Homo sapiens: one gene and its partners. The protein of the gene in region 1 purifies or fractionates together with the protein of each later gene. This does not show direct contact. Each region holds a gene or a part of one and is shown in the gene's direction. Other genes may lie near its edges. The genes, in order: L3MBTL3, E2F6, NDUFA13, GRHL1, CPVL, SAMD13 and P4HA1.

Region 1 (3,953 bases):
TTTAGTAATGAGTGCTGTAGCAAATGATATCAGTTGAATTTACAGGTTGTTTTTTATAGTGACCTTCAGTAAAGACAAAGAAGAGCCTATTCAATAGTATAATGCTGAAAGGAACCAATGCTTTAACCACTCCCACCTCCAGTCTCGTTATCTGGGAGATGCACGGCATTTGGGGCTTTCTTGCTGCTTTCAGAGAGTGATTTCCCATTTGTTTTCATTGACCAGGTGCCCGGGAAGAACCCACCGTCCAGCAGGCACAGCGTCGGTCAGCTGTCTTTCTGTCCTTTAAGTCCCCAATTCCATGTCTGCCCTTGCGCTGGGAGCAGCAAAGCAAACTTCTTCCAACTGTCGCAGGAATCCCTGCCAGTAAAGTTTCCAAATGGAGCACAGACGAGGTATATTTTATTTTCTTTGCTGCCCGACACCAGATACAGGATTACTGGCTTAAGAGGTGTGGAACATTGAGCGTAGGTAGCGTTTAGTCTTTTTTTTTCTGAAAGAGAAGAAATTATTGTGAGAGAAATAACTAATGCATATGGGTTAAATGTTTTGAACCTGTAGCATTTAGATTCTGACTGTGTTTTTTAACTGGGAATTTTGATATTGCTTTTGACAGGTGTCAGAATTTATACAGAGCTTACCTGGGTGTGAAGAACATGGAAAGGTATTTAAAGATGAAGTAAGTATTCCACTAAATTGCAATATGTTACTTAATGGGATCAAAGCACTGAAATGCAGTGGAAGGTGAAATGTGTGGAATTGGCAGAGTCAAAAAGAGATGGGGTGTGTTGAAATTGACAAATTGATGTATACTAACAGGCAGTATGAATCAGTTGTATAAAAATGTCTTTGTATAAGATGAGATGCATAAGAATGTTTGTGAGTACCATTTTATGATACCCCACAGCAGTAACACTAGGCTCCTTATAAAAAGAAAACCCACAGAACTTAATAGCATGCATTTATATAGTTTATAGCACAGAGGAAGCCAAAGAAAGAAAGAAGCAACATTTTCTCTTTTTAATAAAGTGAAATTAGTTTCCATTATTTTATTTTCCAGTGTCATTCTAACAACACCATGATTGACTCCATTTGAGGTTTATAATAAGTAATATTAGCATTATGTCTAAAAAAATCCCTTAAGTCATATACATTCCTCAATAATGTTTATAATAAGATATTTATCACAGTCCACTTTTGGAAGATTATTTTATTAGTTGTTTTCAACTCCCTCTCCAAAACTTCAATATAAGGGGTGATTAAGAATGATATCACTTACAGTGAGCACTAGAATAAAAAGGAATCTGGTTTCTAACTTTTAATTCTGTAAGCGTACAGCAGGAGACCCTTTTCAGTAGAGACCTTTAAAAATAAGCCACTTGCCTGTCATCTCCTCCAAGCAAAGCAGTCAATTACCCCTCTGATTTTGGCTGTGTCTACTCCTGCCAGAAGGCAGAAAGTAGACTGAGTAATCTCAGAAGGTGCTCTCCAACATCTGCTGTCTACAGTTACACGCATACACAACTTGTTTGCCCCTATGTGTAAAGCTCAACTGTTAAGAACAGCACACTTTCCATTTCATTGCAGGAGTATAGACACAGCTAACAATCCAGCCACCAGTTGTCAGTGTTGTTATACTGTTAGGTATAATTTATGCGTTAGATGAAAGCTTGTTAAAATGCACAAGGATCTGATTTCCAACATCCTTTTTCTGATTTATGTTCTTATTGTGCAAAGGTTTTATTTTCTCTCTGTTTGATCTTTAATTGGCAGTTATTCAGATTTTCTTTCCCTAAGTCCTGAGTGTCTTCACTGATACTCTCAATTCATTTTCTGTTTTTTCCTTTTTTTTTTTTTTTTTTTTAAATCGAGATGGAGTCTTGCTCTTCTCTCCTGGGCTAGAGTGCTCACTGCAACCTCCGCCTCCTGGCAGAGGCGATTCTCCTGCCTCAGCCACCTGAGTAGCTGGGATTACAGGTGCCCGCCACCACGCTCGGCTAATTTTTTTTGTATTTTTAGTAGAGACTTGGTTTCACCGTGTTGGCCAGGCTGGTCTCGAACTCCTGACCTCAGGTGATCTGCCCACCTCGGCCTCCCAAAGTGCTGAGATTACAGACGTGAGCCACCGTGCCCAGCCTGAATTCATTCTGTATCGCTGAGCAGACTTAGAGCCACATAGGGAGCTGTTGGTCTGTCTTGGAAAATGTCATGTTGTCATTACCTTTGAAAATAATAAAGCATTTTTGAAAATAAATTTATAATGCATCTCTTTTATAACTTCTGTTTTTTTATTCTGTTGTTATCTAGATAATCCCTATAGGTTTGCTCTATTATTCAGTTTGAGTAAGATTCAAGTTTAAATTCAAAATGAGATGCTATTTTTTGAGTAATTTTTTTTATTCATGGCAGATTGTCTTTGGAGATGTTCCTCAGTTACCAAATATGCTCAAAGCTAGATCCTTTTCTGGAGGAGTGAGATAGTTAATATTCTCTGTCGATATGAATTATTCATTCATTTACTCCTTCATTCATTCATCTTGTGCACATTTGTTAAATTCCGACCATGAGTATGTTACTTTGTGTCATGCTCTTGTGAGAAGGATGATTCGAAAATAATGAAACCTAGTCCTTGTTCTCAAGTGTCTCACAAGGTCAGTGGGTTTGGGTTTTGAGTCCTACAAGTAAACCATAGTACAAATCTAACCGAAGTCTTATAAATCATCTTTAAAAGGCAAAGGACAAGTATTCAGATAGGCTGTTGTTGGAAATTATCCTTGACTTCTCTCTTACACATGCCACATCTCATCTGTTGAAAATCCTATTGGGTGTATCTTTGAAACATGTAAAACCCTTATCACCCTACTGCCACCACCACCCTGGTCTGCGCCACCATCCTCTCCCACTTGGATTAGTGCAGTAACCTCCAAACTCATTTTCCTGCTTCTGTTTTTGCTCCTCTACAGTCTATTCCCAGCACAGCCAAGGTTACCCTGCTGAAACATAAGTCAAACCATGTCACTCCTCTGTTCAGGTCCTTCCAATAGCTTCATCTCTCAATCAGAGTAAAAGCAGAAGTCCTTACAAGGGCCTGCAGTCTGACACCTCATTACCTCTCTTGCCCCCTGGCTTTTTGTTTACACTGCCCCTCACGAGTCTACGTGCTGGCCTCCTTGCTCTTCCTCTGATTGTCCAGGCTTGCTCCCGCTCCTCCTTCTGCACAGAACACTCTTCCTCCAGATGTTCATGTGGCTCACTTCTTCTGCTCAGATGCCAGCTTGCCAATTAGTCCTGCCCTGACTTTCTTACTTGAAATTGCCTCTTGTCACCACACATGCATCCCTGCTCCTGCTGCCCATTCATCTTCCTAGTCAGCTCTGTTTAATCATAGCACAAATCACCTTTTTTTTTTGAGACAGAGCCTCACTCTGTCGCCCAGGCTGGAGTGTAGTGGCACAATATTAGCTCACTGCAACCTCTGCCTCCCAGGTTCAAGCTATTCTCATGCTTCAGCCTCCCAAGTAGCTGGGACTGCAGGTGCGTGCCACCACACCCGGCTAATTTTTGTATTTTTAGTAGAGATGTGGTTTCACCATATTGGCCACACTGGTCTTGAACTCCTGACCTCAAGTGATCCACTGACTTCAGCCTCCCAAAGTGCTGCAATTACACTCATGAGCCGCTGCTCCTGGCCAACATGAGTCACTTTCTAACTTACTAATTAATTGGCTTACTTAGTATGTTTATTGGCTTATGGTCTGTCTACCACTTCTAGAATGTAAATTCCACAAAAAGTTTTTTGCTTGCTTGGTTTTATTTGTTTTATTCCCTGCTATATGTCTAAGCCCAAGAAGAGTGTTTGGAATATAATAGACATTCAGTATATTTTTGTTGAGTGAATACATTCATGCCTTTACACTCTGAGAAAGACTCACTCAGACAGAGCATGTCACTGT
Region 2 (3,953 bases), on another chromosome or scaffold:
TGCAATGGCACGATCTCAGCTCACTGCAACCCCTGCCTCCCGGGTTCAAGCGATTCTCCTGCCTCAGCCTCCCAAGTAGCTTTTATTACAGGTGCCCACCACCACCCCCAGCTAATTTTTTGTATTTTTAGTAGAGACGGGGATTTCACTATGTTGGCCAGGCTGGTCTTGAACTCCTGACCTTGTGATCTCCTCCCCCCACCCCGCCTCCCAAAGTCCTGGGATTACAGGCATGAGCCACCGCGCCTGGACTTATGTTTCTATCTATATGTCTGTATATGATGTCTGCCACTGAGGGGCAATGGTACTGTTGTGATTCCTCCAAGATAGAGTGTTTTTGTATTTGAAGAGGAAAAAAAAACAAATGAATGCTCTTGGAGACTGTTTTCCCACATACATCAGTATAGCCAATATGTAATGGAACTGCATTGATAGCAAAGAGTGGGGAAAACAAAGCCATCTTTTTTCATATTATGCCTAACTGAGGTGTTATTTCTGTACCAACCTGTGATCCACTGTCTAGATGAGATGGGTAGGGAGGTGTGTAGCAGAGAAGACACCCTAGAATGCATAGCTAGCGAGGCAGCCTCTTTGGGAGCCAGTAAGTAGAGTGTGTAAGTCCTGGGCCTGCTACTCTGAATTAAGAACGGGAACCTCTGCAGCAAGGCCCCTCTGAGCTTATATATAAGGATTTAGGATGTTTGTTTATGTGTGTTTCAAATCAATGTGATAAGGATGGATTTTTTTTTTTTCCATTCAAGAATCTTGCTACCGTAGCTGGCCCGTCTCATACTATTAGCAGAGGGGTTAAATGTAAAAATAGCAATGGCAGTTGGTCACACTTGTCTAATGTCTGACTTTGATAGGACTGCTTCAGAGTTTCACTGTTGGATACCATGTTTGCAAGTCACCATTGTCAGCACTGTTTGAGAGAGCTGGCCAGACCTAGTCCCTACCCCCAAGGCCAGCATTCCCAGCTCCAGTGTTGCATGCCCTAGCAGGTCTACGTGTTCAATTCTAACAACTAAATTAATTTTACAGTGGGATTCTGTCTCAATGGGAGTATTCCATATTGGGGTGATTTGTTAATAGATGCTATCATCTTGTCATAGATGATAAGGAAATCATTGTGCCGAGGATATTGTTAACACCAGTATAAACAAAGAGCTTCTTAACTGCTCACCTTGCCTTCAGGCTTCCTCATTTCCCAGTCCTTTTGCCATATTGCTGCCATACTTATATTTCTAAACCATTTACTTAATTATGTCCTAGTCTGGTTCAGAAACCTTTGGTGATTCTCTACTGGTTATGACATAAAGTCCAAACTCTTTAGCATTAGTTTTATGTGGTGCCAGCATGCCCTCCCAGCTTCAAAGTCAAGTCACTTACACACTGGCCACTTCAGTGGGTTCCCAGAAACATGCCATGCCATATACATCTTCACACCTTTGTTCATTTCCGGTACCACAATCCTGTCTTTTTTCTTCTCTCCCCACAGTTGTTTATTCAGGCAAATCTGGCTTGCTGGGCTAGGCTCAGCTGAGGGCTGCCTTCGCCATGAATCCTTCTGTGAGTTCCCTGTCTGGGTGTATCCCTAGTACTGCTGTTGATTCTCTTCTTAGAGTACCTATGAATTCACTTGCCCCAGTTTTGCTTTATGGCCAGTTTTTTCTTAGATAAGAGCTAAACCTGATGACAGCCTGTCTGGAGGCACATTAACATTGATGTTACTAGGAGTTTCTGTTCATAGGCTTTCATTTTAAGGTTTGGTTTCATTTTATTTATTTTTTACAGAAAAACAGTTTCTAAATGTTACTACCAGTTTTATGCAAACTTTCAGAGCCTCTAAATAGCTGGTAAAATGGTGAGCATTGATAATGGAGCTTCTACTAATTTCCTGGTTGTTTCAGGAATTTAAAAGAAACTTTTTATCTAACGCAAAAGTTTCTAGTTACCCACAGCATGCATTGTTTTCCATTGTTAGAAATGCTGCTGTTTTTACATTAATTATAATGGGAATGCATAGCTGCCTATGAAAGCTTGTGAGCAAATTTTGGGGAACCACGTGTACTTAATAATAGCAAGGAGTGAGCATGTGTTGGTTGAGATAGATCTTCTATCTCTACTAAGCTTTCCCAAGTCAGGGACAGTGTTGTAATGATCGTACCTGATGTATTCAGTATATTTTGTGTGTGTGTGCATGTTTTTTTGTTTTGTTTTGTTTTTTGAGACGGAGTCTTGCTGTGTTGCCCAGGCTGGAGTGCAGTGGCATGATCTTGGCTCACTGCAACCTCCACCTCCTAGATTCAAGCGATTCTCTTGCCACAGCCTCCCAAGTAGCTGGGACTACAGGTGCCTGCCACCACGCCCGGCTAATTTTTGTATTTTTAGTCGAGATGGGGTTTCACCATGTTGGCCAGGCTGGTCTCGAACTCCTCACCTCAGTGATGCACCTGCCTCGGCCTCCCAAAGTGCTGGGATTACAGGCGTGAGCCTCTGCCCAGCCAGTAATTATCATATTCATATTCCCAGACCTTTATACTATTGAGTAAAATGCTATTTGTTTGCATTGTTGTTTTAAAATCACTAAGTTAAATTTTTTATCTTTTTTTTCAGCCATCAAAAATAAGGATTAATTTAGAAGATAATGTACAATATGTGTCCATGAGAAGTAAGTTGATTCCTGAATAGGTTTTAGGTTTTGTTAGTTTGAACTTCTTATGATTAAAATGATTTGTTTAAGTGTATGAGTTGATGAGAAACTGAAATACAATTTGTTATGTGTACACTGAAATGTAAAGTTGCAAGTTTTAGTAACAACTCCTGAGGTTATGGGTTGAATCATGTGCACAAATGCCAGTTTATTCTCCATAGAACAGTCTGTATTTAAGGCTATTTTCTCAGAATTCCTCCTGGGAGAGAAATGTACTCTTTCCTTCTTGTCCCTTATCTTAGGTTAATGTTTAGGGTATCTGTTAGAGGCGATAGGATGTAAATGGCTCTAGTTCCCTCTTCTGGAAGTTTCCATGATAGACCGCCCCACCTCAGCTTCCTAATCTCAGTGGATACATAGTGCATCGATAAGTCAGTGTGAATCTTAGAAATACTCACCCTTAGTTTTGCCTCAGTGCCTGCCCCAGTCTCACCCATAGTTGGTCACTGAGTTTGGTCAGCTTCACCTTTGATGTGTTTCTTGCATCTGTCCCATACCACCAATTTATAATAATATCTAACATTTATTGAGCTCATACAGTGCCTGGCACTGCATTAAGCTCTCTGCATGGATTGTCACAATGACCTTTCAAAATATAGGTATGGATTAGAATTCTTACTTTATAAAGGCCCAGAGAGGCTGAGGTGAGTTGCTCAGAGTCAGGGTTGAATCTCTTACCTCTCTGACGCAAGAGCCCAGAGTCTTTACCACAACGTTGAATTGCTTCTTCTCGTTCAGGGTCTAACTTCCTCTGTAGCTGAAGTTGCTGGGTCTCCTTCTTAGAAGGCAGTCAGCTTCCAGGCTTTCCAACCTGGATGCTGGAAAAATCCAGGGGGATTTGTCTAATACAGAAATTGGATTATGATATCATTCAACCTAAGTTCTTCAGTGACGCTCTTTTACATGTAGAGAAAACCCTGATTCCTTGTATATTTGATTTTAAGTGTTTGCATTAAATTCATAAGCCACTTCATATTAAAAGAAACAAGGCAGTAGAGAATGGGTAGACAGAGCAGACCAGGCCCTTGTAGGCTGTTTCTTGCTTAATGCCGCAGCCTCTTCTTCCAGCATGCTGCCGCCCTCCTCCACAGCACAAGCTACACCACCTGTGATCCCCAAAGCACCCCAGGTTCTCTAAGTCTGCTTTGTCTTCTGAGGTGTGGTTTCCTCTCCCTCACTTCAGCCCCTCACCCTCTGTCACAGTGGGCAAACACCGCCCATTCGCCTTCCTGTTCCCTAT
Region 3 (3,953 bases), on another chromosome or scaffold:
CCTAGTTTGAGGTCACAGAGAGTGACTTACATTTTCTTCTAAGAGTATTATAGTTTCAGCTCTTACGCTTAGGTCTTTGATCCTTTTTTTTTTTTTTTTTTTGAGATGGAGCCTTGCTCTGTCACACAGGCTGGAGTGCAGTGGCGCGATCTAGGCTCACTGCAAGCTCCGCCTCCCGGGTTCACGCCATTCTCCTGCCTCAGCCTCCTGAGTAGCGGGGACTACAAGTGCCAGCCACCACGCCCGGCTAATTTTTTGTATTTTTAGTAGAGACAGGGTTTCACCGTGTTAGCCAGGATGGTCTCGATCTCCTGACCTCGTGATCCGCCTGCCTTGGCCTCCCAAAGTGCTAGAATTACAGGCGTGAGCCACTGCGCCCGGCAGGTCTTTGATCCTTTTGAGTTAATTTTTGTGGATGGTATAAAGAAGGAACGCATCCTCATTCTTTAGCATGTGGCTGTCTGGTTATCCCATTTGTTGAAAAGACTGTTTTCTCTCCCATTGAATTATCTTGGCACCTTTGTCCAAAATCAATTGACCATAAATGTGAGGGTTTATTTCTGGACTCTCAGTTCTGTTCCATTGATGAACATCTCTGTCCTATGCCAGTGCCACACTGTCTTGTACACACAGCTGTGGGATAAGTTTTGAAATACTGAAGTGTGAGTCTTTCAACTTTGTTCTTTTTCAAAATTGTTTTGGCTGTTCTGGTCCCTTGCATTTCCATATGAATTTCCCAACCTGCTTGTCAGTTTCTGCAACAGGAAAAGAAATGGTTGGGATTCTGATGGGGATTGCGTTTCAAATCTGTATCAGTTTGCACAGCGTTGCCATCTGCACAATGCTAAGTGCTCCAATTCTTGAACACAGGATGGGTTTTTATTTATTTTGGTCTTCTCTTAAGAATGGCCAAGGCCGGGCTCAGTGGCTCATACTGGTAGTCCCAACACTCTGGGAGGCTGAGGTGGGAGGATTGCTTGAGGCCAGGAGTTCAAGACCAGCCTGGGCAACATAGCAAGACCCTGTTTCTATGAAAAATATATTTTTCTTTTTTTTTTGTTTTTGTTTTTGGTTTTGTTTTCTGAAACAAAGTTTTCTCTGTCACCTAGGCTGGAGTACAGTGGTGCCATCTCAGCCCACTGCAACCTTGACTTCTTGGGCTTAAGTGATACTCCCACTTCAGCCACCCAAGTAGGTGGGACCACAGATACGTGCCACCACATCTAGCTAATTTAAAAATATGTATTTTGGGCCGGGCATGGTGGCTCATGCCTGTAATCCTAGCACTTTGGGAGGCCGAGGAAGATGGATTTACCTGAGGTTGGGAGTTCCAGACCAGCCTGGCCAACATGGTGAAACCTCGTCTCTACTAAAAAATACAAAAATTTAGCTGGGCACAGTGGCGTGCACCTGTAATTCCAGCTATTCAGGAAGCTGAGGCAGGAAAATCACTTGAACCTGGGAGGCGGAGGTTGCAGTGGGCTGAGATCGCACCACTGCACTTTAGCCTGGGCTACAGAGCGAGACTTTGTCTCAAAAAATAAAATAAAATACGTATTTTGTAAATGTTTCACTGTGTTGCACAGGCTAGTTGCAAACTCCTAGTCAAGTGATCCTCTCACCTCAGCCTCCCAAAATGCTGGGATTACAAGCGTGAGCCGAAAAAATTTGATCCCACCACTGCACTCCAGCCTGGACAACAGAGAGAGGCCCGGTCTCCAAAACCAAAAACAAAAAGAATGGTCCACACACCCTTTTGTGCGTGCCCCTCACCATGTTCCCCACCAGACTAGCAGTTCCTAAGGCACAGACTCTGAGGCCTGGGGCCTTGGCCCCCCTGTGGTTGGCGAGGAGGAAGAGCCCTGTGCAGGCTGCATGCAAATACAAGAGGCCCTGCATTGTTTCTGTCATCTCATACATCTCTGTTCTATGCCAGTGCCACGCTGTCTTGTACACACAGCTGTGGGATAAGTTTTGGAATTTATTTCTTCTTTGGAATTTATCTTACAGATGGGCCTGCGTATGAGTGCGCAGGTGTGAGGGTGCAGGTTCTCCCCAAGGGCCCATTTTCTGCACCAGAAGGCTGAGGGCAGCCCAGGTCTGTCCCCTGGGTTCTCTGTAGCCGTGGAAAATAATGAGATATGGCCGGGCACGGTGGCTCACGCCTGTAATGCCAGCACTTGCAGGTGGATCATGAGGTCAGGAGGTCGTAACCAGCCTGGCCAATATGGTGAAACCCTGTCTCTACTAAAAATACAAAAATTAGCCTGGCGTGGTGGTGGGCGCCTGTAGTCCCAACTACTCCGGAGGCTGAGGTGGAAGAATCGCTTGAACCCAGGAGGCAGAGGTTGCAGTGAGCCAAGATCTTGCCACTGCACCCCAGCCAGGGCAACAGAGTGAGATTCCGTCTCAAAAATAAATTAATTAAAAAAAAGAAAAGAACGAGATATGACCAGCCTGGGCAATATAGCAAGACCCCATCTGTACAAAAATTAGTTAACTGGACATGGCACACACCTGGGGTCCCAGTTACTCGGGAGGCTAAAGTGGAAGGATCACTTGAACCCAGGAGTTGGAGGCTGCATTGAGCCATGATTGCGCCCCTGCACTCCAGCCTGGGTAGCAGAGTGAGACCTTGTCTCAAAACCAAAAACCAAAAAAGGAAAAAAAAATGAACAAGGCAGCTGATGAAACCTCCCATGTGCTAGACAGGAGGCTGAGAGCTGGGAGCTGGCCCTGAGCACCCTGGGCCTCTCCAGAGATGTGCCTCTGAGCCCGGACCCAGCACACCCTCATTACCTGTAGTATGGAAATGTCTTAGCCCTGACTTGGGCTTCTAACAGGTTAAATAACCAGGTACAAATTTGAGCCAGTTTCTCATTTATCTCCGGGTCTAGCAGAGGTGCCCCCGTGAGCTCCATGCTGGAGCAGAGCTGAAGGCAGAAGAGCATGACAGGTGCAGAGCAGGGCCCGGCAGGCACAGAGTAGCCCCAGCAGGCATAGAGCAGGGCCAGTGCCCTGGAGGCCTGGAGATGGCCTTGCCTTCCACCTGCTGGTCATTTCCTGGGTGTTGACTGGAGCCTGGCCTACCTGAGCTTTTCATTCATCCCACCAAGTGCAAAGCCTGTCCAGAGAAGAGACTGGGGCTGGAAGGATCTGGAGGGTGCAGGGTGAGCCTGGGAGCCAGATCCCAGACAGCCCAGGCCTCTCTGAAGATCCCAGTGGGCCCCCAGCCTGTCAGTCAGGATTAGAGCAAGGCCCCACTGGTGCTCAGTAAATATTCATGATGGCCTAGGTCCTTCCTGGGGTGCAGGGCAGGGGGCTTCACCCTGCAGAGCCAAGAGGTAGCACGGCCACCCCTAGAGTCCGGGGGGTGGCTGGGCAGCCCCCACAGGGCACTGCCTGTCCCTGGCAGCTGTGTGCAGCCCCCGCAGGGCAGCACGCGGAACTGTGGCCCAGGTGGCCGGGAGCCACCATGGACACTGTCAGAACTGCCCTTCCACTTCAGGGCCAGCCTGCCGCCCAGGGTCCAAACAGCCTTCTAGAACACGATGGACCTGGGGCCCCCCTAGCAACCACCATCTAGACCCTCAGGCCTCCTGAGGTTGCTGCCTGGCTTGTACCTTTCAGAAAACCCCTGGCATGGGGGCAGAGGTGTCACAGTCCAAGCAGCCTCACTCCTGAGAAGCCGCCAGTGTCCCCTGATTGCAGAGTGGGCAGCGCCTGGAGCTGTGGAGGAGGGTGTCTGGGGGCGGGCTGGCCCGCTGAGCAGCGCCTCTCTTCACAGGCTACAGCATGCTGGCCATAGGGATTGGAACCCTGATCTACGGGCACTGGAGCATAATGAAGTGGAACCGTGAGCGCAGGTAGGGCCCCTGGTGGGCGTTGTCTGAAAGTGCCCCCCCGGCGAGTTGTCGGGGTCCTGTAGCATTCCGCTGTTGTCTGTGCTGGCG
Region 4 (3,953 bases), on another chromosome or scaffold:
GCAGGGGTTAGCACACTGTTTTTGTGAAGGGCTGGGCCGTAAAGGTTTTCAGCTTTTGGGGCCCCGTGGTCTCCACTGTGCTGCTCAGTGCTGCCGAACTAGTGCACACATGGCCATAAGCAGCATGTGAATGAATGAGCGTGGCTTTGTTTCAGTAAAGACTTTATTTACATGAACTGGCTTTAGACCAGATTTGGCCCAACCACTGAGTTAAAGGAGTTCAAGACATCTGTAAGAATCTGTTATTGAAAACTAAGGCTAAAGGATTTTATATTAGATTGGTGAAATTCAAAATTATTTCCATTTTAGGAATAATTCATTTATGGCCAAACATTTTGAGCATACATTTGAAAAGCAATCTATTCCTTTGGTCTTAGGTCCTTCCCATTGCCTCTGAAGAATTGGAGGGTGAAGGGTAAGATTTATGTTTTGTTTTGTTTTGTTTTAATAATGGAAATGATTTCAAACTTGTAGAAAAACTGCAAGTACAGTACAAAGAACTCATTTTTCCCTGAGCCATCAAGGATAAGTTGCCAGCCTGATGGCCCATCACTCCTGAATATCGTGGTATATATTTCCTACCAACAAGGACATCCTCCTGTGTCACAGTCAAGATTAGAATATTAACATTGCTTCATTAGCACCAATAATGTCCTTTATAGCAAAAAAGGATCCAGTTCAGGATCACACATTGTAGTTGTTTGTCATGTTTGTTGATCTTCTTCAGTCTAGAACTAAGCCACTCCTTAACTTTTCTGACCAAATATTTTTGAAGATTACAACCAGCTGTTTTGTAGACTCTTCTTAGTTTGCGTGTGTCTGCTGCTCTCTCATGGTTAGATTCCAGGCCTGGCAGGGATGTCATAGAGGCCAGGCTGGGTTCTCCGTGTGTCCTAGCAGATGGCGCTTGATGTCAGTTTATCTGTTACTAATGGTGTTCTTTGGTCACTTGATTAAGCTGGTATCTGCCAGCTTCTCCACTGCAAAGTGGCTCCTTTTATAGTAAGTGTTGTCTGGGGAGGTGCATTGTAGCTTTGTAAATATCTCATTCCCCATCAAACTTTCAGTTTACTCGTTCATTTATTGCTATCAGTATGAACTCATAGTTTCCTGTTTTATTCAATAAGCTGTGATTCATTAGTCATTTACTTTGATGCTCAGGTTGTCCCAGAATTGGGCTCTGCCTTCCTGTGCCGGGCAGCCCCCTACTCATGCTGCCTAGTGGAGGGGGGCTGACGCTACCCCTCTTTGGGCTATCAGAACCTTCTTGATGGCTCTGGGACTTTTTCAACAAGGCAAAGATTCTTTTTGTTTTTATTTCATTTTACTTTTAGAGACAGGGTCTTGCTCTGAGGCCCATGTAGGAGTGCAGGGGTGCAGTCACAGCTCACTGCAGCCTTGAGCTTCTGGGCTTAAGTGATCCTCCTGCCTCAGACTCCTGAGTAGGTGGGACTACAGGCACATGCCACCACACCCATCTAATTATTATTATTATTATTATTATTATTATTATTATTATTATTGTAGAGATCCTGGTCTCAGGCAATCCTCCCGCCTCAGCCTCCCTCTTTCTGTTATCTGCCCTCAGAAAGGTGCATCCTGATGGAGAGAGCCAAGATTTCCATGGGAAGTTCATTCCTCAGCATCCCTCTTCCCTCATCTTCCATCCATTCCCAGGGCTTAAACCGTCATACTGGGGACATTCATGCCCCACACGTTACCCATCGTGCCTCTCTTTGAAGGCGAGGCCTGCACTGCCCCTTTGATTCTTAGTGTTTCAGGCTTGAGTCCTGCCGGCACTTTCACTAGACGGCTGCTGTGTGTTAGGAACTGAGGTGGCAGAGTCTCGGAGGCTCAGCCCCTGCTCCTGAAGTGGCCATTCTGCTCCAAATCCAGCACTCCCTCCCTTCACTTTCAGTTATCTACCTCTTCTCTTGCTTGCCGTGACACCACCTGCTGGACCCTCCATGCCAGGTGCCCCTGGTAGCCAGGCGTTCGTTCGATCTGAGTTTTTCTCTCCTCAGACTCTCCTTGGTCTGTTCTCACCTTTTGGCTTCCATGATACCACCATATTTTAAACCTGTGGAATCCTGTGCTCGGATTATACCAGCCTCCTTCCCCTGGTTTTTCTGCTTGAAGGTCCTGGGGTCCCCTCCAGTCTTGACCACACACTTTGGGTACCAACACACTTTGGGTACCACACTCAGTCTCACAGACCTTTCAACTATTCCCTCTTCTCTGCCATGTAAAATTTAATTCCTTAGAGCTGAATGATCAGGACATTCACGGTAGAGTCGGCTTCCCGAAATTTCTAGATATGGCTTCCTGTGGGCCATTCTGTTTGAGCCAGGCTGGCCCTGCATTTTCCTGCTCACACTTCCTCAGTGTTTTGAAACATCATCTCCTTTGTCACTGCCTGTACAAGGTTATCTCAGATCCTGCCTCCTCCATAGAGTGTTTCCTGAAAAGAAGCACCAGACAGCCAGGCGTGGTGGATCATGCCTATAATTCCAGCACTTTGGGAGGCCAAGGTAGGAAGATCGCTTGAGCCCAGGAATTTGAGAACATCCTGGGCAACATAGGGAGAACCCATCTCTACAAAAATAAAAAAATTAGTTGGGTGTGGTGGTGTGCGCCACTTGGGAGGCTGAGGTGGAAGGATTGCTTGGGCCTGGGCGGTTGAGGCTGCAGTGAGCCGTGATCCATGATTGCACCACTGCACTCCAGCCTGAGCAACAGAATGAGACCCTGTCTCACAAAAAAAAAAAAAAACCAAAGCGCCTCATCTTCGAGAAGGCAGCTTTATCTGATGAGAGTGCAGATACCTGCAGGGAACCTGAGTGTGGTCCCATGTCTGCCTGTAAATATCCATGAGCCCTGGAGTCAGGATCTTCCTTTAGCCTGATTTTTCATCCACAAATAAGGAAGCTGGACCAGATAAAGAATGAAAGTCATTTTAAATCTAGTTCCATGACAGGCTCTAAAACACCTTAATGTTGATGCAGCTGGTTAAGTTGAATCACTAACGGCATATTTTGGATCACTGCAGCTCTGTCTTGAAAAGGGGGCCGTACGGCACAGAAGATGACTTTGCTGTCCCTCCTTCTACCAAGCTGGCCCGGATAGAAGAACCAAAGAGAGGTGTGTTCGTTTCCATTTCTTAGTGGGAGTTTTAAATCAGAAGTGAGTTCAGAATCTATCAAAAGCATAAATGGTTCAAGCACATTTTTCCCAGTTTCACTTGCTTGGGAATTCTTCCATCAGACTGACATCTAGCTTGAGCTAGGACTTAGAGCAAAGTTCAGAGAAGCTGAAACCTGTGTTCCTTAAGACAGAATTGATATTGGCTGATGCTTGTCATCCTTGATGTGAATGTGGTTTTTATTTTAGCTGGTACCGTGGTCTGTTTTCCTCTTTTGCTCATGTGAACTGTATCCTTTTTTTCCTCTCTTTTCCCTTCCTTATTCCTGGTTGGGGATTGATTAGTGCTGCTCTACGTTCGAAAGGAGTCAGAAGAAGTCTTTGATGCCCTGATGCTCAAAACCCCATCTTTGAAGGGCTTGATGGAAGCTGTAAGTAGGATCAACTCTGTAATCCCCTGTACAAAATGAAAGGACAAGTACATAGGATTTCATTGAAACACTTTATCAGATGATCCAAATCCTTTGTCAGACCTTCTGGAATCCCTGACACCTTTCTCGAGTCGTCGTGCGTCCCACATTTTATCCTCACCCAGGGGTCTTAACTCACACAGTCACTCAGTCACACCTGTTCCACTGAAGTGAATGCATCTGTGATGGCCTATGAAATGTTTAATTTTTATATACGTGGTTAAAGGGAGATTGCCATTTAGCAAGCCACTTAGAAGCTAACAAAAGTGATTTTTAATCAAGTACAATCTTAAAAACTTCATACATAAAAACAGTGGCTCCTCAGTCTACCTTTAAAACTCC
Region 5 (3,953 bases), on another chromosome or scaffold:
CTGGAACATCTGGAACACATGAAGTTAGAGGCTGCAGCTCTAGTGTGGAGGCACCCAAAATAGACAGTTCTATTCAGGGAGCCCTGAGATTAATCTTGTCACATTTAAATACGTAATTACAGCCCTGACACATTTTGTTACTCACCTCTAAAAGCTGCCAAGTGGTCTGTTATCTTTGATTTGTGAATGGTGAGTGGCTTGATTATAAACAAGAGTGGTTTATTTTTCCACACTCAAAAATATATTTATTTTTGAAGTTAATATCAGTAAAATGCTGTATGTGAATCTGCTTAAGAATATGCTTTGTTTGGGAATTTTGTGGCATGTGAAACAACTTTGTCCCTTAACAAGCTTTCTCTTCCCGCAATATTAATGACACAATTTACAATGCCATTAGGGTCATTACACATGGCAGCTCAGAAATTGGACCAGGGTCAGGTAGGTCACTGAGAGGAAGAGTAAGAACACCTGACCCCTTCAGCGCTCCTTCACCACTTGATAATTATGGACAGGGAAGGTGTGTGTGAGTGCGCATGTGCGTGAGTAAATACCAGGAGAGCGGATACCCAGGAAGTGAGGTCATGAGTAGGTATTAAACAAATTTCTACTTGTATTCATGAGTAGGTGTTAATCAAATTACCTTGATGTAAACAGAGAATTCCCTGGTTTGCCACAGAGTAGAAAAAAATTCTCAACAGTGGTTTTCAACAAGCAGTTGGAACAACAGCATCAGCATTGCTTTGGAATTGTTAGATATGCAAATTCTTAGGCCCTGCCCTGGACCTTCCGAATTGGAAAGTCTGGAGGTGATGCCTCACGATCTCTTTTAATGAGCTCAGGTATTTTTATGCACGTTCAAATTTGAGAGTCATTGTTTTGTTTTTTCGTTTGTTTTTGAGGTGGAGTCTCACTCTGTCGCCCAGGCTGGAGTGCAGTGGTGCCATCTTAGCTCACTGCAACCTCTGCCTCCCAGGTTCAAGTGATTCTCCTGCTTCAGCCTCCCCAGTAGTTGGGATTACAGGCGTGCATCACCATGCCTGGCTAATTTTTTTTTTTTTAATTTTTAGTAGAGGCAGGGTTTCGCCATGTTGGCCAGGCTCTTTCAAACTCCTGACCTCAAATGATCCGCCCACCTCAGCCTCCCAAAGTGTTGGGATTACAGGCATGAGCCACTGCACCCAGCCAAGAACCATTGTTTTAAACAACCTTTTTTAAACCAAGGTTTTTTATGAAAATGTAGGAACACCATGTTCTAGGGTAGTTTAGGTTCATATAAGCATATATACATATATATTCATTTATATTTAGAGATGGGATCTCCTTTTGTTGCCCAGGCTGGAGTGCAGTGGCTCAGTCAGCTCACTGTAGCCTCAAACTCCTGCAATCAAGCGATCCTCCTGATCTCAAGCAATCCTCCTGATATAGGCATTTTGATTCTGGATTTTCAATATAGATAAGTGTTGGAAGAATAACGAAAATGACCAATATTTACTGAAGACCATCCCAGGCCGGGCACTGTGCTAAGTATTCCAGGGACATTATTCCACTAACTCCTCACACAACTCACAACTACCCCACGAGGTAATACTTGTTTCCCAATTGTAAAGTAAAGGAACCTGAGGCTCAGTGAGGTTAAGTTCCTTGCCCAAGGTCACACAACGTGCAGTGCCTCTTGCCATGCTCCTGCACTCTGACTTCTGAGCCCAGGCTGTGAAGCACTGTGCTATCCTTTGTTTGTCCTTTGTTAGCTGCAGCACTGGTTCTGGGGGCAGGATGACCTTTAGCTCTTGGGTATTCAATTTATTGGTGTTCCGGACCATTGCTGCCAAACTCATTTCCAGTTGAAGCAGCTGGGTTTTGTCACACATATGACTTTGTTAAGTGTCCTCAGCTGAGCTGAAGCTGCACAGAAATCACTCATCAGATTCCTGCCAGGGCCAAAGATATGGATGAAAATCTGCAGGAAGAAATGTCTAGCCTGGGATTGCGGGGCGGCAAAAGTTTCCCTCTGGAGTCCTATGAAGGGGTTCTTGTCACACATGTTTACTTTCAGTTTGTGATAAAAAGTGGGCATGCTGGGTTTCCAGTTGCAAGCTTCTACACAAATGGTAGATGGGTTTCACAGTCATTGCAGTGAGGCACAAATGACCATTGATCAACTGCAGCAAAACACAAAAGTTTCACATTTGCATGTGAAAGAGTTAAGTCTGGTCCCACATCTGCAAATGGGATCTGCCTCCCTCACTGTAATATGTGAAATACAAAAATACAGAAAATTATGTTTATATCTGCAATAATTTTTTTCATCAATAAACCTCAGAGGGCTATTGAGAGGTGAATAAAAATGTTCCGTGACTAAGCTGCAAATTTCAGTTCAAAGATAAGGAATGATTGAGTAGAGGGTTTGATTAAAAACACCACACCGGTGTTTGCATCAGAAGTCAGGGTTCTAGCTAGTTATCTCACTTAACAATTGTGTGACTTGGACAAGCCACTGAATAATTCCAAATAGCTCAGTCATCTCAATGCTCATGTGAATGGTGCTCCCTGTAGTTGTTCAGTGCACAGCTTGTATAGCTGCGAGCTGCAAGGTAAATATCATCTAATAGTGTTAATCCTACTTACTGCACGTCAAGGTTGTAAGATGGAGGGTGTTGGGATATAGGGGCAGATTTTCAATATAATAAATGTACTATCCAAATATACTTTTTCTGCCTCAGTTTCCTTCAGATTGAGACAAGTAGAAGAACCCAGCCTCTTAGGAAGGGCCTTGTGAAGGTGACCTTTAATTGCTGATCGTGATTCTGCAGCTAGAAGTTACTGAAAGTGATGTCCTTTTTGCATACGTTTATTCACTTCATGCACTGGTACCTCCTGTCCATTCTCCACATATGGAACGAGACATCTCAGGCCAGGCTGACCTCTCCTGCATGTAACTTCCCAACACTCAGTGTCAGTCCTTGCCCTTTTGGCACTGAATCATGACAGCTTCCCGTTTCCCTCTACTTGGAATATTAGCTGACGCTAGAGGCTTAACGAGTACAGAGACCAGTCCCCTTTTGCTGATTGGATCTCATCATTAGAGATGTTTTAGGAATGCTTTATATCACCCAACAAGGGCTTGGGTTACGTAGGTGTCTGCATTTGTCAGAACTGGTGAGTCTACACTTAAGACTAGCGCATTTCATTGTATCTTAACTTGACTCAAAAGAAGAAAATCTGTAAACACATGTTGAACTCTGATGAATAATGTGATGCTGAAGTGTGTGGGGGAAGTGCACTACATGCCCATTTTACTTTGAGATGTGTCAAAAATATAAGATGGATTAGTGGATGGGTGTGGGATGCATAGAGGCACCCTTATGTGAGAAAGCAAGTAAAGTGAAAGTTCATGACTCAAAATCGTCACTATATGAATTGTTTTCGAATTTGCTATGTTTTAAAATGTTTTATAATCCAATATTAGGAAAAAAAAGAATGTTCTAACTCTATGCTGCTCAAAACATGACTTTCTTTCATTTCAAGTGTCAAGTTTTTTGTTTTGTTTTTTTTTTTTTTGTTTTTTGGTTTTTTTTTTTAAGAGATGGGGTCTCATTCTGTCAACCAGGCTGGAGTGCAGTGCATGTGGCATGATCCTAGCTCACTGCAGACTCCAACTCCTGGGTTCAGGTCATCTTCCTGCCTCAGTCAAGGATGTTTTTGGTTTTTTAATTTTTTTGAGAACCAAAATTTCCCCTTCATTACTGATAAAGGCTAAAATGGAAGGTATGGCTCAGTGTGAGGGACAATTGGGCTGGCTAACTGAAGGGTGGAATTAAGTAGACAATCCACCCCATTGCAGGCAGACCTCACATACCCCAGAAGTAGTGGGCTGGAGGTGGGCCTCACCAGGTAACACTTGCAGTGCAGCACTCTCAACTGCGGGGAGCAGGCAGATCACTCTCTAGAGGAAA
Region 6 (4,528 bases), on another chromosome or scaffold:
ATCTTCAAGGAAGTCAAAAATTTCTAATATAATTCCTGGAATAAGTAAAGAACAAATTTTTTGACCTTGAAATTCAGGTTCCAAATTTAGATCAAAGGTAATCTCCTAATGTCCTAAAAGATTATTTTTAAAAAGGGAAGCAGGCAGCTTTTTCCTCAGATTCTACCTGAATTCTACAGGATATTACAGCAAGTGATAACTTTTTCCAGGATCTTTCTGGGGAACCTGTGTTCTGTGCCCTGTCTTGAGTGGTTTTGTTGACCATCTTGACCTAAAAGTGTCCAAATGTTGATTGATGTTTATTTCAATGAAGAGGCAACCATGTATGTTTTCTGTGTATGTGCAGAACATTAATGGGATGAGATTATTCTCCTGGAAAAGTGGTTTAAGCCAAGCAAGGGAACTGTGAGAATGACCAGGGTAACTTAAACAAAAGATCTTGCCCAGCCTCTCTGCTCCACCTCCCAGTTTTCTGATTTGGTATTTAGGATGATGGCGGGAGAGACTATGAATTTTGGGGTGGGCATAATGTCTTTCTATTCATATGTAACTAATATAGTACCGGGTACTCATAGATTGTAAGTGTTGGTTAAATTTCTTGAATTATGCTTTTTGTCCAACTGGGATAAACAGTTAAAATTAAACCTCCCAGAACTAATTGTTTTCGTTTTGTAGAATAAGGTTTTGTTTGTTTCAGTTTGAATTTTTGCTGGCTTCATTTGGCAGGATAAATGCCAAAATAAAAGAATGTGGGCGTTTTCAGGAGATCTGGTCATCTATTTTGCATCCTTTCCGAAATATGTTACTTCCTGCATAATGAAGTAAAAGGATTTGCTGCTGGGCAGTGCTTTCCTTATTCTCACAAAGAGATTACTTAAAAGCCAGCCCTGGGAACTTTGTCCATGAATCTCTATTAGGAAAAAAAGAGTAACATGGGACTGCAGCTTCCGAGTGTTCTCTGGTTATAGCCCATAAGCACTGGCTTCTCACTCTTATTTTTCCCTCTGGGGAGAAAAGGAAATAGTTTGAAACATGACATTCATGCTCAGAACAACAGCTAAGACCTATCATGCAGCAACAATGAAGGGGAGGGAGAAAATAAGAAGCTATTGAGACAGCTTGTTTTTCTTTGTACAAGACAGGTGCAGGGAGAATTCTGCAGGTTTTGGACTCCTTACTCATTTCTTGCACTAATTGTGCTGAAGGTAGTTAGCAAAAGTGAACAGGCACACTGTAGCTTTAAAAAGTCAGCCATGAACCAGAAGGCAGTTGGTGCAGCTTGTGTGTGATTCCTAACGTCATGTTGGCTGAGAGCCAGCCTGGTTTTATTTCACTGTGTCAAATTGTACCTCCTTATTGAATTCCTTTGCCAGCCTACTTTGTGAAAGAAAACATTGGGGTTTCTTTGGCTGTTCTTGATAAGCCTATAAAAAATGATATTTTTTAGTTGCTTATAGGTAGGTTTTCTTTTTACTCTTCCACAGAAAAGAAAATAATAGTAATAATAATAAGACAATGTAGTGTGGTGTTGCAGAGTATCATTGTGAGTGTTTTGTTTTGTTTTCTGAGATGCTTAGAAAATGGTGAATGTGTAACAGTTTCCAACTGAAGTGAAATCATATTCTGTTAGCATGGAGCAGCAGCACTATCTTCCTGTCTACTCTCTAACGGTGTGTGAATGTATGCTAATATCTATATATATATATTAAATGTTGGATTTCTCTATCAATGATCTAAGTGGTTTGCAGCTGGAAGTTTGTGTGTATGTGTGTGTTTCAGGAGTGAAAATTATCCCACACTTACAGTGTTATTTGTTAATCATCTACTTCTCTAACAGTGATAAAATCTTGCGAATATACTAAATGATGCACTTGCCATGTCAGAGTAATCCCTAGAGAAGGAGTGCCGAAGTATAAAGTGATTTGAGTGGAAATGTATTTAATTTATGGCTTCAGCTGAATAAGAGCAAACACGTTTCGGGACTGTTTCTTCCTTTTTTTTTTTTTTTTTTCTTAAAGCAGTTTTGTTCGTAGCTTTTTCATTTTGCTAATTGCATATTAATTGTGGAAGGCTTTTAATTTTCCACAGCCCTCATCCTACTAAACAAAAAGACAGAGTGATGGATGCTACAATATCTCCTTAAATGTTTTGATGATTTTTCATAAATCTAATGAGTTACCTACTCTTTCTTACACATACACACACACACACACACACACACACACACACACACCAGCACCACCTTTCTGTGCTAAGGGCTATCTGGCATTTTTTGTGAGCTTCCTGCTTTACCACAGCATGGCCATCTCACAGACGGGTTTTTGAGGCTTTCGTTGAGAATGTGAGGTAGGGGAATACTTGCTGACAAAAGCTTTAAGTGTCCTTCTGCATTGCAATGAAAAAATCTAGGAGCAAGGGGGAGTGGACAAAAAAAAAACCAAACACAATAAGAAAAAACAAATCAAAGCCCATAATGGGAGGGGGGCAGGAAAAGGGGGATTGTTTTTCTCTACTTTGACTCATTTATGAGTTGCAGTGTCTTAAGTGAGAGCTAGGCACCCAGAAGAAGCTGTGCCAGTTCACACAGCACTTGTTTTCAACGAGGATTCAATTTCATTTGCAAATGCTTATTGTCAAGGCAGGGAGTGCCAGTACAGATGAAAGCACCCCAATCCGTCTCCTCCAGTTCTTTAGGTTTAATCACATCTCTCCAATCGCCGAGGGAACTGGAGATTTAAACAAACATACGTGAACTGGTGTGAAGCTGTAAAAGGGACCATTATGTTTCCGATTCAGAATATATATTCTTCTCTCACTTTCTAAGAATTAAACACAAGCTTTTCTCCCTTATTGATTAGTTGCTGAAGTAAAGGAACCCTGCAGCCTTCCCATGCTATCTGTTGACATGGAAAACAAGGAAAATGGCTCTGTCGGTGTAAAAAAGTAAGTGAAGCTGGCTTCTGAGTTCTGCTTCTGCAAACAACAGAGGGACTTAGTTTCTATTTTCGTACTTCTTGCTTATCTACTACAATACACAGTTTGGGGGTCGCCTTGGTTTGTCTACACTGGCCAGCAGCCTCCCTTCTCCCCCCTACCCCAGTTACCTTTTTCTGTATTGCATTTCTAAGACAGAGATGACTCAGACATCAAAATATATATGAAAGGTTTGTGTATCAGGCTTTGGAACAAGGATGGTTGAGGATTTCAGCCCTGCATTCTGTATATTGAAACAAAAACTCCAAGCAGAGACTCTTCCATAGACAACACAGAATGGGGGCAGAAAATAGAGTTCAAATTTTTTTTTTGAAATACAATCACCTCTAACTCTGAAAACTAAGAGCTATAGTGCAGGAAGGGAAAAAGCTTCAGTAAGAATATAGTTTAACAACTCCTCCGTCCTAATTTTATGAACTGTTTAATGAATGTGAAACATTTCTGTGCATACATGGTGTTTATTTTAAAGTCTGTTCTCACATTTGAAACTTGTGTTTATATGTGTCATGTAAGAGTTATATATTTGATTATTTTAAATGGGAAAATTCAATTGCACATGTAACATAATATTTTGATATTTATGAGTATATGAAAAATGTATATTCTCACTTAGGAGTTATAGCAAAGCAATAAGTACTTTGATTACAAGGAGAAAGTGAGTTCCAAGAGGGAGTTATCTGTTTCATTTCTTTCCATATCATTTAGTTTAAAATTGCCGTCAACTTGAGCTTTGGAGGAAACTAATTAAATATAATCCATAGAAGCTGTGATATCTAAATGAGGAAACAGTGTGCTATATGTTTATGAATAGAAGGTATATTTTGCTTCACAGCAAAGTTACATTAAAACTAACTTAATAAAATCTGTTTTTTAAAGTTCTCGGGTAATTTATATATCAGTGCCATACTGCCATGCTGATTACCATCCCTAAAGTTTGGGGTAGGTAGGTGGAGGAGAAATGAAAGAAACAGATGCTGTTTTATGTGTGAGTTAGATCAGTGTTATCCAACAGTACTTTCAACAATGATGGAAATGTTCTGTATTTGTGCTGTCTAAAATGGTAGCCACTAGCCACATGTGGCTACGAAGAATATGAAATGTGACTAGTTTAAGTAAGAAACTGAACTTTTAATTTTACTTAATTGTAATTAGTTTTAAAATTAGCAGCTTTACTGAAGTATAATCCTTGCATAATAAATTGCATGTGTGTAAAGTAAGTTTTGATATTTTTATCCCCTCTTGAAACTACTGCCACAATTAAGATGACAAATATTTCCATCACTTCCAAAATTTCCTTACGACCTTTTGTAATCTCTCCCTCCTGTCCTTTTCTGCCCCCATATCCCCTGGCAACCACTGTTATGCTGTCATTATAAATTAGTTTGCTTCTTCTAGAATTTTATATAAATGAATGTGTATACATCCCCCGCCCCCACACACACACATATAGTTTCTGTCACTCAGCATAATTAATTTGGGATTTATCCATGTTATTGTGTATATCAATATATCATTACTTTTTAATTACTGAGTA
Region 7 (3,953 bases), on another chromosome or scaffold:
TTCCAGCTTATTCGAAAATTATATCTTTAGTTTCCCTTTTCCTTCTTACTTAGAAATTTGGGACTGAACTTCACTCAGCCCTTAGAAGTAGGCTACATTTATAATGTATCTGTGGTAAAGGTTGCTTTTGAATTGCTTATCCCCTGTCTTCCTCATGTGATTGTTTTTCTGTCTTGGAAAAATCTTTTTCATTTCTTAAAATAAGTAGGATGAGTAAGATTTTAAACTTCATTTGACATCAAATTGAACTTAGTTCCTTTAGCTGATTAGTAAATTCTCAAAGTAAAAGCACCAGTTGCCACCTTTAAATAAATAGCTGTTTCTGTCTCCAGAACTGTCTTTTTTGAGACAGGGTTTCACTCCTTTTGCCCAGGCTGGAGTGCAATGGCATGATCTCGGCTCACTGCAACCCCCGCCTCCCGGGTTCAAGTGATTCTCCTGCCTCAGCCTCCTGAGTAGCTGGGATTGCAAGCACCCACCACCACGCCCAGCTAATTTTGTATTTTTAGTAGAGACGAGGTTTCACTATGTTGGTCAGGCTGGTCTCGAACTCCTGACCTGAGGTGATCCACCCACCTCAGTCTCCCAAAATGCTGGGATTACAGGTGTGAGCCACCAGGCCTGGCCCAGAACTGTTTTTATATAGGTGACTATATGTCCTGATTTACTTGGGGGCAGTAGTAACTTATACCTATTATTTTGGTATAATAATTTTTATTAGTGCCTCCTTTCACTCACAACAGCAACCTGGTTTGGAAGATAAATTATAATGTCTCCTATTTTTATATTACTATATTCTGATGCTTGAACAAGCATGAACTTACCCATGGACATGCTTTGTTTCTCTTCTAATAGATCCTGAACATCAGAGAGCTAATGGTAACTTAAAATATTTTGAGTATATAATGGCTAAAGAAAAAGATGTCAATAAGTCTGCTTCAGATGACCAATCTGATCAGAAAACTACACCAAAGAAAAAAGGGGTTGCTGTGGATTACCTGCCAGAGAGACAGAAGTACGAAATGCTGTGCCGTGGGGAGGGTATCAAAATGGTAAAGTGGAAAAGCCAATTGTGTGTATGTGAATGTGTGTGTGTATGTGTTTGTACACAGTTCTGGAGAGAATCAGTTATTTTATATTTAAGCCTATGTGATAAAAATCAGAATGACTGCATAAAATATTACAGTATGTCAGCTTAGGCAACATAGACCCCATTACAAAAAAATTTAAAAATTAGCTGGGCATGCTGGTGTACACTTGTAGTCTTAGCTACTCAGGAGTCTGAGGTGGGAGGATCACTTGAACCAGGAGTTCAGGGGCACAGTGAGTTATGATTACACCACTGCACTCCAGCCTGGGCTACAGAATAAGACCCTGTCTCTAAAAAACTTTTTTTTTTTTTTTTGAGATGGAGTCTCACCCTGCCACCCAGGCTAGAGTGCAGTGGCATGATCTCGGCTCACTGCAAATTCCGCCTCTTGGGTTCAAGCGATTCACCTGCCTCAGCCTCCTGAGTAGCTGGGATTACAGGTGCCCGCCACCATACCCGGCTAATTTTTGTATTTTTAGTAGAGATGGGGTTTCACCATGTTGGCCAGGCTGGTCTCAAACTCCTGACCTTGTGATCCACCTGCCTTGGTCTCCCAAAGTGGTGGGATTACAGGCGTGAGCTGCTGTGCCCAGCCTAAAAAACTTTAAAAAAAAAATTACAGTATACCATTCTCTCTCTGTGGGTGCCACATTTAATATGTTCCAATTATTAGTAAAATAGCTTTAAAATAAAGCTTGTGAATCATATACTATTACATATGTTTGGGGCAATATTACCTTTTTCATTTGATCCTTCCAGGGTGAAGGATCAAATAAGTTTAAAGGAAGTGATAGTTTTTTTTATATTTAATGCAAGAGAGATTTCAGCAGTATTTTTTTTTTTTTTTTTGAGACAGAAACCCACCCTATCACCCAGGCTGGAATGCGGTAGCGCAGTCTCGGCTCACTGCAACCTCCGCCTCCTGGGTTCAAGCAATTCTTGTGCTTCAGCCTCCCAAGTAGCTGGGACTACAGGCATTCGCCACCATGCCCGGCTAACTTTTTTGTATTTTTAGTAAAGACGGGGTTTCCTTATGTTGGCCAGGCTGGTCTCAAACTCCTGACCTCAGGTGATCCTCCCGCCTCGGCCTCCTAAAGTGCTGGGATTACAGGCGTCAGCCACCACACTCATCTGTTCAGCAGCCTTAATTAGAGACAATAACACTACTCTGTGCATCTTATGAGATACAACAGATTCATCTATACAATAATCCCTTGTAGTTTTGCTCCTAGTTAATCTTCACAAGATTGCTTAGTGAAATGCTTTAGTCTGTTTAATACTGAAAATGCAGAAAGTTTTCAACAGATTTTGTCTTTAATATTTCTTTAAAATATATCTATAAATATTACTTTGTTTATTGTATATGTATTTATAACTCAGAATTCCAGTTCTATAGATGTTAATAGATACTAGGCCAAAAGCAAAAAGAACAAAGTCTGGGGAACATTTGTTAAACAAAGTTGAACATAGGTTTTTGTTTAGCCTCAAAACTTCTCAGAACCTTTTTATGATAATGTGCATTGTGATATGATATACATTCTTTCTCAATATTAATTGATTATGGAACCTTTTGAAAAGGAATTTCATGTGGTATTAGTTTTCAGTTGAACACAGGCTTGCATAGAAGGAGTTAGTGAATTTTTGGAGTAAGTACTTTTAGGTGTAAACATTTGAAAAGTGTTTAACATTTTCTTTACTACTGGTAAACTCAAGCTGGGCTTTGCATTTCGATATTGATGACTGTTGACAGCTTAACCACTAACAGCAAAGTATACAATACGTATGGTGACACTTTCAATAGATAGGTTCATGGAGTCCTAGGAGGACATGCTTGAGCTAATGAGTAAATACAAAGATGGTGACACTGTTAGACTCATTATTTTCTTTTTTTTTTCTCTGAGACGGAGTCTCGCTCTGTTGCTCAGGCTAGAGTGCAGTGGCGCCATTTCGGCCCCTGGGTTCACGCCATTCTCCTGCCTCAGCCTCCTGAGTAGCTGGGACTACGGGCGCCTGCCACCACGCCCAGCTAATTTTTTGTATTTTTAGTAGAGATGGGGTTTCACCTTGTTAGCCAGGATGGTCTTGATCTCCTGACCTCGTGATCCGCCTGCCTCGGCCTCCCAAAGTGCTGGGATTACAGGCGTGAGCCACTGCACCTGTTCCCTCATTAAACATTTTCTTTTCTGTTTCATTACTAAATATTTTAGTATGTATCTTTTAAAGATACAAATTCAAAATAACTACAATACCATTATCACCTAAAAATTCACAAGTTTTGTAATATCAAATATCTAGTGTTCAAATTTCCGCAGTAAGCAGAAATTTTTATTGCTCTTAATAACTCTTAAGGAACAAAATAAAACTGTAGATATAAAACAAAGAGTCTGCTAATTTCCCGGTTTGTTAATGTAACACATACTCAACTTTGCCTAAGATCAAAAGAACATTCTTGCCAGGCACGATGGCTCATGCCTGTAATCTCAGCACTTTGGGAGGCCAAGGTGGGTGGATCACCTGAGGTCAGGAGTTCAAGACCAGCCTGGCCAACATGGTGAAACCCCATCTCTACTAAAAATACAAAAAGTTAGCCGAGCATGGTGGCAGGGGCCTGTAATCTCAGCTACTTGGGAGGCTGAGGCAGGAGAATTGCTTGAACCCAGGAGGCAGAGGCTGCAGTGAGCCGAGATCAAGGCATTGCAGTGCAGCCTGGGTAACAGAGCAAGACTTTGTCTAAACAAAAACAAAAACAAAAAATTCTTTTTCTCAGAATAGCTACATTCATCTCATCATTATATAAAAGACTTACTAAAAATTAAAGCCTTGGATTTGACTCTAGGTAAAGTGCATGGAGAATAAACATGAA

Evidence for each region.
Region 2: the proteins of L3MBTL3 (region 1) and E2F6 purify together in Homo sapiens (co-immunoprecipitation; one study listed by IntAct). This does not show direct contact.
Region 3: the proteins of L3MBTL3 (region 1) and NDUFA13 purify together in Homo sapiens (affinity purification with mass spectrometry; one large-scale study listed by BioGRID and IntAct). This does not show direct contact.
Region 4: the proteins of L3MBTL3 (region 1) and GRHL1 purify together in Homo sapiens (co-immunoprecipitation; one large-scale study listed by IntAct). This does not show direct contact.
Region 5: the proteins of L3MBTL3 (region 1) and CPVL purify together in Homo sapiens (affinity purification with mass spectrometry; one large-scale study listed by BioGRID and IntAct). This does not show direct contact.
Region 6: the proteins of L3MBTL3 (region 1) and SAMD13 purify together in Homo sapiens (affinity purification with mass spectrometry; 4 studies listed by BioGRID and IntAct, with this or other methods). This does not show direct contact.
Region 7: the proteins of L3MBTL3 (region 1) and P4HA1 purify together in Homo sapiens (affinity purification with mass spectrometry; 2 studies listed by BioGRID and IntAct, with this or other methods). This does not show direct contact.

What each region holds. Positions count from the first base shown.
Region 1 is NC_000006.12:130,133,227-130,137,179, forward strand, and holds part of L3MBTL3 (lethal(3)malignant brain tumor-like protein 3), read left to right. Parts: intron 1-225; coding exon 226-395; intron 396-616; coding exon 617-679; intron 680-3,953. UniProt on the Homo sapiens protein: Is a negative regulator of Notch target genes expression, required for RBPJ-mediated transcriptional repression. It recruits KDM1A to Notch-responsive elements and promotes KDM1A-mediated H3K4me demethylation.
Region 2 is NC_000002.12:11,455,897-11,459,849, reverse strand, and holds part of E2F6 (transcription factor E2F6), read left to right. Parts: intron 1-1,497; exon of another isoform or gene 1,498-1,557; coding exon of another isoform or gene 1,558-1,569; intron 1,570-2,616; coding exon 2,617-2,671; intron 2,672-3,953. UniProt on the Homo sapiens protein: Inhibitor of E2F-dependent transcription. Binds DNA cooperatively with DP proteins through the E2 recognition site, 5'-TTTC[CG]CGC-3'. Has a preference for the 5'-TTTCCCGC-3' E2F recognition site.
Region 3 is NC_000019.10:19,522,395-19,526,347, forward strand, and holds part of NDUFA13 (NADH dehydrogenase [ubiquinone] 1 alpha subcomplex subunit 13), read left to right. Parts: intron 1-3,787; coding exon 3,788-3,866; intron 3,867-3,953. UniProt on the Homo sapiens protein: Accessory subunit of the mitochondrial membrane respiratory chain NADH dehydrogenase (Complex I), that is believed not to be involved in catalysis. Complex I functions in the transfer of electrons from NADH to the respiratory chain.
Region 4 is NC_000002.12:9,992,830-9,996,782, forward strand, and holds part of GRHL1 (grainyhead-like protein 1 homolog), read left to right. Parts: intron 1-145; exon of another isoform or gene 146-377; coding exon 378-415; exon of another isoform or gene 416-3,049; coding exon 3,050-3,141; exon of another isoform or gene 3,142-3,486; coding exon 3,487-3,572; exon of another isoform or gene 3,573-3,598; intron 3,599-3,953. UniProt on the Homo sapiens protein: Transcription factor involved in epithelial development. Binds directly to the consensus DNA sequence 5'-AACCGGTT-3'.
Region 5 is NC_000007.14:28,996,155-29,000,107, reverse strand, and holds part of CPVL (probable serine carboxypeptidase CPVL isoform b precursor), read left to right. Parts: intron 1-3,856; exon of another isoform or gene 3,857-3,943; intron 3,944-3,953. UniProt on the Homo sapiens protein: May be involved in the digestion of phagocytosed particles in the lysosome, participation in an inflammatory protease cascade, and trimming of peptides for antigen presentation.
Region 6 is NC_000001.11:84,300,345-84,304,872, forward strand, and holds the start of SAMD13 (sterile alpha motif domain-containing protein 13), read left to right. Parts: upstream 1-1,363; 5' UTR 1,364-1,457; intron 1,458-2,306; exon of another isoform or gene 2,307-2,346; intron 2,347-2,858; coding exon of another isoform or gene 2,859-2,890; coding exon 2,891-2,943; intron 2,944-4,528.
Region 7 is NC_000010.11:73,048,152-73,052,104, reverse strand, and holds part of P4HA1 (prolyl 4-hydroxylase subunit alpha-1 isoform 2 precursor), read left to right. Parts: intron 1-855; coding exon 856-1,052; intron 1,053-3,953. UniProt on the Homo sapiens protein: Catalyzes the post-translational formation of 4-hydroxyproline in -Xaa-Pro-Gly- sequences in collagens and other proteins.